Homo sapiens: one gene and its partner. The protein of the gene in region 1 binds, or shares a complex with, the protein of each later gene. Each region holds a gene or a part of one and is shown in the gene's direction. Other genes may lie near its edges.

What was found.
Region 2: SUPT16H (region 1) and SSRP1 share a complex: the UniProt entries of both Homo sapiens proteins name them as parts of the FACT complex.

The regions. Positions count from the first base shown.
Region 1 is NC_000014.9:21,356,129-21,360,042, reverse strand, and holds part of SUPT16H (FACT complex subunit SPT16), read left to right. Parts: intron 1-433; coding exon 434-559; intron 560-1,615; coding exon 1,616-1,728; intron 1,729-2,040; coding exon 2,041-2,116; intron 2,117-2,676; coding exon 2,677-2,846; intron 2,847-3,914. UniProt on the Homo sapiens protein: Component of the FACT complex, a general chromatin factor that acts to reorganize nucleosomes. The FACT complex is involved in multiple processes that require DNA as a template such as mRNA elongation, DNA replication and DNA repair.
Region 2 is NC_000011.10:57,333,768-57,337,681, reverse strand, and holds the start of SSRP1 (FACT complex subunit SSRP1), read left to right. Parts: upstream 1-1,789; 5' UTR 1,790-1,952; exon of another isoform or gene 1,953-2,062; coding exon of another isoform or gene 2,063-2,560; coding exon 2,561-2,614; intron 2,615-3,033; coding exon 3,034-3,219; intron 3,220-3,914. UniProt on the Homo sapiens protein: Component of the FACT complex, a general chromatin factor that acts to reorganize nucleosomes. The FACT complex is involved in multiple processes that require DNA as a template such as mRNA elongation, DNA replication and DNA repair.

The DNA.
Region 1 (3,914 bases):
AAAAAAGTGATGAAAAAATCACCTCTCACTTAAGAACATTTAAGAGGATTAAATAAAATAATGCCTCTAAAGGCCACAAGGCCTGGCATCTAGAAGGGGCTCATAAGCATGTTTGTTCCTTTGGTGTGTTATATGGTGGCCAGCAAATGTTTTATACGAGATCTCCAGATTTCTCTTTCTAAAATGAAGTTTTGCTTTAGATAAGATTTGTTACCAACATGATTTCCAAAGTTCCTGTAATAAGTAGGAGCACAGCACTTTTTCAAATGTACACTGTTTCCATTCCCAAGCATCATTATTTATGATGACACCAGGGGTGGTTTAATTATTTTTGCATGCATGCTGTGGAGGCCCAAGTTTGGATCACTGCCATTTCCATCACAGATACCTTTGTGTTTCTGACTTCTGTGTTCTTTCTGTTTTATGCCGACAGAATGCCATCATGTTTGGGAAGAAGCGGCACACGGATGTGCAGTTCTACACAGAAGTGGGAGAGATAACCACGGACTTGGGGAAACATCAGCATATGCATGACCGAGATGACCTCTATGCTGAGCAGGTTTGTGAAATTTAGTATTGTATTTGCAGGATAGTGAGGGAGGATGAGGCCAAATCCAAGCTCAGGGATTGTATTTTATAAACAAACTGGGCTGGCGTGGTGACTCGCGCCTGTAATCCCAGCACTTTGGGAGGCCAACATGGGCAGATCACCTGAGGGTCAGGAGTTCGAGACCAGCCTGGCCAATGTGGTGAAACCCTGTCTGTACTAAAAATACATAAATTAGCTGGGCGTGGTGGGTGGTGGTAGTCCCAGCTAGTCGGGAGGCTAAGGCAGGATAATCACTTGAACCCAAGAGGCAGAGGTTGCAGTGAGCTGAGATAGCGCCACTGCACTCCAGCCTGGGCGACAGAGTGAGACTCCATCTCAATAAATAAATAGCCAGGTGCAGTGGCTCACGCCTATAATCCCAGCACTTTGGGAGGCCAACACAGGCAGATCACGAGGTCAGGAGATCAAGACCATCCTGGCTAACACAGTGAAACGCTGTCTCTACTAAAAATACAAAAAAATTAGCCGGGTGTAGTGGCGGGCTCCTGTAGTCCCAGCTACTCGGGAGGCTGAGGCGGGAGAATGGCATGAACCTGGGAGGCAGAGGTTGTGGGCCAAGATCGCGCCACCGCACTCCAGCCTGGGCGACTAGCAAGACTCCATCTCCAAAAATAAATAAATAAATAAATAAACAACCCTGAATCTGTTTGTGCAGAGCAACTCAAGTATCTGCTGAGATAGGGTATTACAAGAGTTTAGGCTTAGGTTGCAGACTCAGCTTGACAGGTAATGGCATGGTGACCTTAAATATTAAAGGTGTATGTACATGTTAGTTTTATAGTTACGAGAGAATGAAGGGCAACGAAAGCACTTCAGGGATGATCTGTGCAGCAAACCACCATGGCACACGTTTACCTGTGTAACAAACCTGCAAATCCTGCCCATGCACTCCTGAACTTAAAAGTTGGAATTTTTATTTTAAAGCACAAAAGCACTTCAGACTTTTTGAGGGGAGGTACTGTTAACAAATGTGATGGCTGTATTTGATATTTTTTTCTTCTACAGATGGAACGAGAAATGAGGCACAAACTGAAAACAGCCTTTAAAAATTTCATTGAGAAAGTAGAGGCTCTAACTAAGGAGGAACTGGAATTTGAAGTGCCTTTTAGGGACTTGGGGTAACCTATCTTATTTTTGGCTTGAAGTTTGACTGGTCTGTCTTTTGGTACAATAAATTATTCTTCCTTTAATAATAATTTAACATATCATATCCTTTTTTCCTATGACTAATAATCTTTGAGACATCCATTTTTTCTTGAAAATGTTTAAGGGTTTAGGTGAGTGGCTAACTCTTAAGAGGCTTCCTCTGGATGAGTCTCCAGTGAGTATGCTGGAGCTGTTTGGAATGGGGAGAGGGAAGAAGTTTGTCTGTTGTGGTAGGAGCAGTCTCTCTCGTGATGAGCTCAGTCTTAAAAGTTTGTCTCTTCCAGATTTAACGGAGCTCCCTATAGGAGTACCTGCCTCCTTCAGCCCACTAGTAGTGCGCTGGTAAATGCTACGGAATGGGTGAGTGTTTCTTACTTTCTTTTAGTAAGAAAATTGTTAGAGAAAATAAAGAAGGATAGGTGTTTTTTATCCTAATTATTGTCATTTTCATTTTTGATATTTACTTAGACTTAAAACTCATTGAACAAATGTTACTTTTAAAGTCTCTTTAGGGCAGGCATAATGGCTCACACCTGTAATCCCAGCACAATTAGAGGCCAAGGTGGGAGGAACACTTGAGGCCAGGAACTCAAGACCAGTCTGGGCAACATAGCAAGAACCTATCTCTCTTTTTTTTATTTTTTATTTTTTAAGATAATGTCTTTTTAAATAGTTTATTTTAAATGGTTCCTTCACATAGTTTCCTTGAGTTTATTCTCCTTGAGGGATGATTTTTGTATCTTGCAGATCCTTTTTCTGTGGCTTCTTAGTATGTTGTACTGCCTCAGTCTTTCAAAAAAAAAACCAAAAAACAGCTTAAGTTATCTTTTATGTAGTGATTTAGATCATGAAAGTTATTTGAAATATTATTGCTTTGGGGGAAATACTTATATGCTAATGATTCAGTTTCTCCCTGACAGCCACCTTTTGTGGTGACATTGGATGAGGTAGAGCTGATCCACTTTGAGCGGGTCCAGTTTCACCTGAAGAACTTTGATATGGTAATCGTCTACAAGGACTACAGCAAGAAAGTGACCATGATCAACGCCATTCCTGTAGCCTCTCTTGACCCCATCAAGGAATGGTTGAAGTAAGTAAATCTGCCATCAGTCTCCCATTTAGCCCATGAGCCCTGTTTTATAGAATTTGAATGTGGTATGTTGTGCATAAAATCTACTGATATACTTAAAGTGAGACTGCCTTTTGGTTGTTACAGACCAGGACTTGAAAACTTGAGATCTATTAGATAACGGAGCTGTTCACTTTTTCTTGAATTCCCAACAATAGCTTGTGCATACTTAACACAAAGAAAATCAAAATCTAAGATCTTTTTTGTTTTCAGTGTTGCCCAGGCTGGTCTCAAACTCCTGGGCTCAAGCGATCCTCCCACGTCGGTCTCCCAACGTACCAGGATTACAGGCACAAGCCACTGCACCCAGTCAATGTAGAGCATATTTACAATAGCTTTTGAAGCATCCTTTTCTGCTCTTCACCCATTATCTTTATATTTTCTACATATTTTGTAGTGGTGGTGGTGGTGGTTGTTTGAGACAGGGTCTCACTGTGTTGCCCAGGCTCAAGTGTAGTGGTGCAGTCACAGCTCACTGCAGCCTCAAACTCTTGGATTCAGGCAACCTTCCTGCATCAGCATCCCAAGTAGCTGGGACTACAGGCATGTGCTACCACACCCAGCTAATTTTTTTTTACTAGAGATGAGGTTATTCTAGGATGCAGTCAAGTTAGTTGGATTCTGTTTGATCTTTCAAGGCTTGTTCTCAAATGTCTATTAGTGTGGATTTAGAACAGCCTTTAAAAGTTTCACTCAAAAACTTCCAAGTAATTGGCCTTACTACGAGGCAATACTCTTCAGAGTCTGCCTGATGCCCTGTGGATTGTGAGATCTCTCTGCTGAAGCTGGTGGAAAGGTGGTGGAAATAAATCCACTGGAACACGATTTATTTCTAGTTCTGTGTGAGATTGGGAGTTGTCTGTCCTACTGCTTTCCAGTGCTTCTTTATGCAGTTCCAGTTTTCTCATGAATGTGTAGATCATCCCTCCACCAAAGACTTGAGGGGACCCCTCTGCAGATCTCTGGAGCTTTCTCTCTGGGAAACTCTTCCTTCCTGTACTCTTCTCCACAAATTCTAGCTGTCCCAGC
Region 2 (3,914 bases), on another chromosome or scaffold:
CGCCCACCCCGCGACAGGCCCTGGTGTGTGTGATGTTCCCCACCCTGTGTCCAAGTGTTCTCATTGTTCAATTCCCACCTATGAGTGAGAATATGCGGTGTTTGGTTTTCTGTCCTTGTGATAATTTGCTCAGAATGATGGAGTCCAGCTTCATCCATGTCCCTGCAAAGGACATGAACTCATCCTGTTTTACAGCTGCATAGTATTCCACGGTGTATATGTGCCAACTTCTTTTTTTTTTAACTGTCACTTTATTTATTAAAGTCATTTGTTAGATTATGTTTTCCTGAAAGGTTGGGGCTGGGTTTTTTTTTCTGTTTTTTTTTTTTTTCTTTCTTTCCTTCCCTTCCTTTTTTTTTTCTTTTTCTTTCTTTCTTTTTTTTTTTTTTTTTGACAGAGTCTCGCTCTGTCACCCGGGCTGGAGTGCAGTGGCACAATCTCAGCTCACTGCAACCTCTGCCTCCTGGGTTCAAGCAATTCTCATGCCTCAGCCTCCTGAGTAGCTGGGATTATAGGCACCCGCCACCACGCCTGGCTAATTTTTGTATTTTTAATAGAGACGGGGCTTCACCACGTTGGCCAGTCTGGTCTCAAACTCCTGACCTCAAGTGATCTCCCTGCCTTGGCCTCCCCAAGTGCTAGGATTACAGGTGTGAGCCACCGTGCCTGGCCGGGGATGTTTTCACCTTGTTCAAGTTTCCTCAAATCTGAGAAGTGTGCTAAAGTAGTAATAGGCCCTCAATATCTATTTATTAAACCCAGTTGAATTTATTTTGCTAGATAATGCTGGAATAGCCACTACTCAGAGGTTAAAGCTATGAGTTCAGGGGAGAAGGGTGCATTCCTGTTGTCTCTTACCCCAGGATTGATTTAGCAAGCTGGTGTATTGATTGTCAGGGAAATCTTGAGCTTACATATTCTGTACTAATGTCTTCATGTAGGACACATATCAATAGTCATTCTGAACATACAGTCACTGTGATTATGACAGAAGATAACTGGACTGGTGGTGTTAAGGAGGTCTGGGTCCTACCTAGCCTTGTTGCCAACGCACTGAGACCCTGGGCAACTCACTCCCCTTTGGGTCTCAGTTTTCCCATCAGTAAAAGGAGGTTGGGGTAGAAAAACTAAAACATCTTTTCCAGGTCTGGTCTCTGATGTTGCAAAATGCACTCTGGGATTATACGGGGGAGACCTGGCTTCCGCAACCACAGGATGATGTGGTTTCAAATCAGTTCTGGCTCCAAGGTGAATCTGACACCAGGACTTGAACTGGATAAGGCCGTTTGCCAGCCTCTTGGAGGTACCTATAATTTTCGGTTAAGGATGTGAAAATTTTGGGTGTAGACAGTGAACTTGACAGTTCAGCCAGAAAGCAGTGCACCCACGATGACACCAACACCCGCATACTCTCCGCAGCCAGTGGGAGAGGTCGTTTCCTCCCACAACTGTTCAAATACTTCTCTTCTTGTCCCATCGACTCCTTTCCATGACATAGAAACTATTTTGCAGAGAAACGGGCACGCATCATTCCAATACACACCCCCACCCCACCCCTGTACTAAGTCTGATACAATAAAACTACACAATTTCTCTTTAGTATCTAGTCTCGACTGAAGAAGTGTCTGTAGTTTCTAAAGAGCCCTACACACATTTTCTAGGCCGGATTCCCCCTGGGTGAGAGAGGCTTCACGGCAACCACCCTTCCCTCAGGTCCTCCAGAGTCGCTGACGCTCTATGCGACTGTCTCGCAGGCGGGCCCGACTCGCGTCTCTCTAGCCAGCTCATCCTCTCTGTGGCCTGTGTACGGCTTCCGGTGGCGGGACGCGGGGCCGCGCACGCGGGAAAAGCTTCCCCGGTGTCCCCCCATCCCCCTCCCCGCGCCCCCCCCGCGTCCCCCCAGCGCGCCCACCTCTCGCGCCGGGGCCCTCGCGAGGCCGCAGCCTGAGGAGGTAGGTGGTGGTCGTCCCCGGTCCCAGGAAGGCAGGGGCCCCGCTCCCCCACGGGACCCTCGACATGGACCATTCCGCGTTCGCAACCGCGGGGAGCGGGCGAATCCATTATGTGGGGCGGGGGTGAACCGTGGGTCTGGGGCCGCGGGGTGGTGGGAGCGGTGCGAGGGAAACCCTGCACTCTGAGCTGGATTGGGTCGCGTGCGATGTGCGGGCTCCTGGCAGACCCTGGGGTTCCGCTGCTCGTTGCCATGGCTCCCGCCGGAGCGGCCAGAGCGGGCGTCGGGTTGGGTGTCAGCGGTATTCCGGGCCCGGTTCTCCACCCAGGCCTGGACCTGGACCCTCGGGCACTGCAGCGTCCGTCTGTAGGTTTCCAGGCAGAGGAAATCCTGAGACATCCAGGCGCAGCTGGGAGTTGCTACCTGGCTCCATCCGTGAGCACAGCGAGGTGCTGTCTTTCATGCTTATCTGTCTTCCTCTTGAATTCAGATTCCCAACCTGCTGAGCATCCGCACACCCACTCAGGAGTTGGGGCCCAGCTCCCAGTTTACTTGGTTTCCCTTGTGCAGCCTGGGGCTCTGCCCAGGCCACCACAGGCAGGGGTCGACATGGCAGAGACACTGGAGTTCAACGACGTCTATCAGGAGGTGAAAGGTTCCATGGTGAGAATGGCTTGGACAGGTGATACAAGTAGAGAGAAGGAAGGAGGGTAGAGTTTTTGTCCATTAATGAGAGCTTGCTTTGGTAACGTTATTTTGGAAAAAGAAGACTCAGTATAATGTGTACCTAGTGTCTCCACCAACTCAAGGCAATACTGAGAGATAGTCTCAGAGTTATAGGGACCGTATATGCTGTTCAGTTCCCAATTCCTGTTTTACAAATGAGGAAACTGAGAATCTGTTAAGGGTTCTAGATACCAGAGTCTGGTTTAGAATCTAGACTCCTTGGCACCCTCAGCTGTTGCTCCTGCATTGATAATCTGGCCAGTCCACTTGCAGCAGGAATGTGTGTTAGGTAGAGCTGTAGAACCCAGGACATGCTGTGTACTGTCTCCATGCATCTGGGCCTGCTTTTCTTACAGAATGATGGTCGACTGAGGTTGAGCCGTCAGGGCATCATCTTCAAGAATAGCAAGACAGGCAAAGTGGACAACATCCAGGCTGGGGAGTTAACAGAAGGTATCTGGCGCCGTGTTGCTCTGGGCCATGGACTTAAACTGCTTACAAAGAATGGCCATGTCTACAAGTATGATGGCTTCCGAGAATCGGTGAGATGTCCCATGGCTATAAGCCTCCTTTTTACTGCATCTTCTTATTTTAATCTTCTAGAGACTCGAGGTTCCTTCCTCATGTAACCCTGTGATTGCTAGTTTGGGCTCCTTAGAGCAGGGCTGTGAGGCCATCAGGCAATCAGTGTTTGGCTTTGAGCGTTGAAGTCTTGTGAATTTCTGTGTGCCTTGACTCCAGAAGATTTTCTTCTGTCTTGATTTAGATAGTAGTTTCTGCCTGTGGCTTTTATCAAGGTTCAGAATCTTAGCTTGATTTCTTTGTGTGTATGTGTGTTTTTGGTTTTTTTTGGGGACAGGGCCTTGCTCTGTCACCCAGGCTGGAGTGCAGTGGCGCAATCTCGGATTACTGCAGCCTCCGCCTCCTGGGCTCAAGTAATCCTTCCATCTCAGCCTCCTGAGTATCTGGTACCACAGGCACATGCCACCATGCCCAGCTGATTTTTAATAATTTTTGGTAGAAACGGCGTTTTGCCACATTACCCAGTCTGGTCTTGAGCTCTCAGACTCAAGGGATCGCCCACCTTGGCCTCCCAAAGGGTTGAGATTACAGGCGTGAGCCATTGCGCCTGGCTAGCTTGATATCTTAAAGTGTGGGTTTTGTTTTCCTTTTTGAACTGCTTGAGTTAAAGGCTTTATTTGATTTTAATTTCCACTTTCATTAAAGTAATACCTAT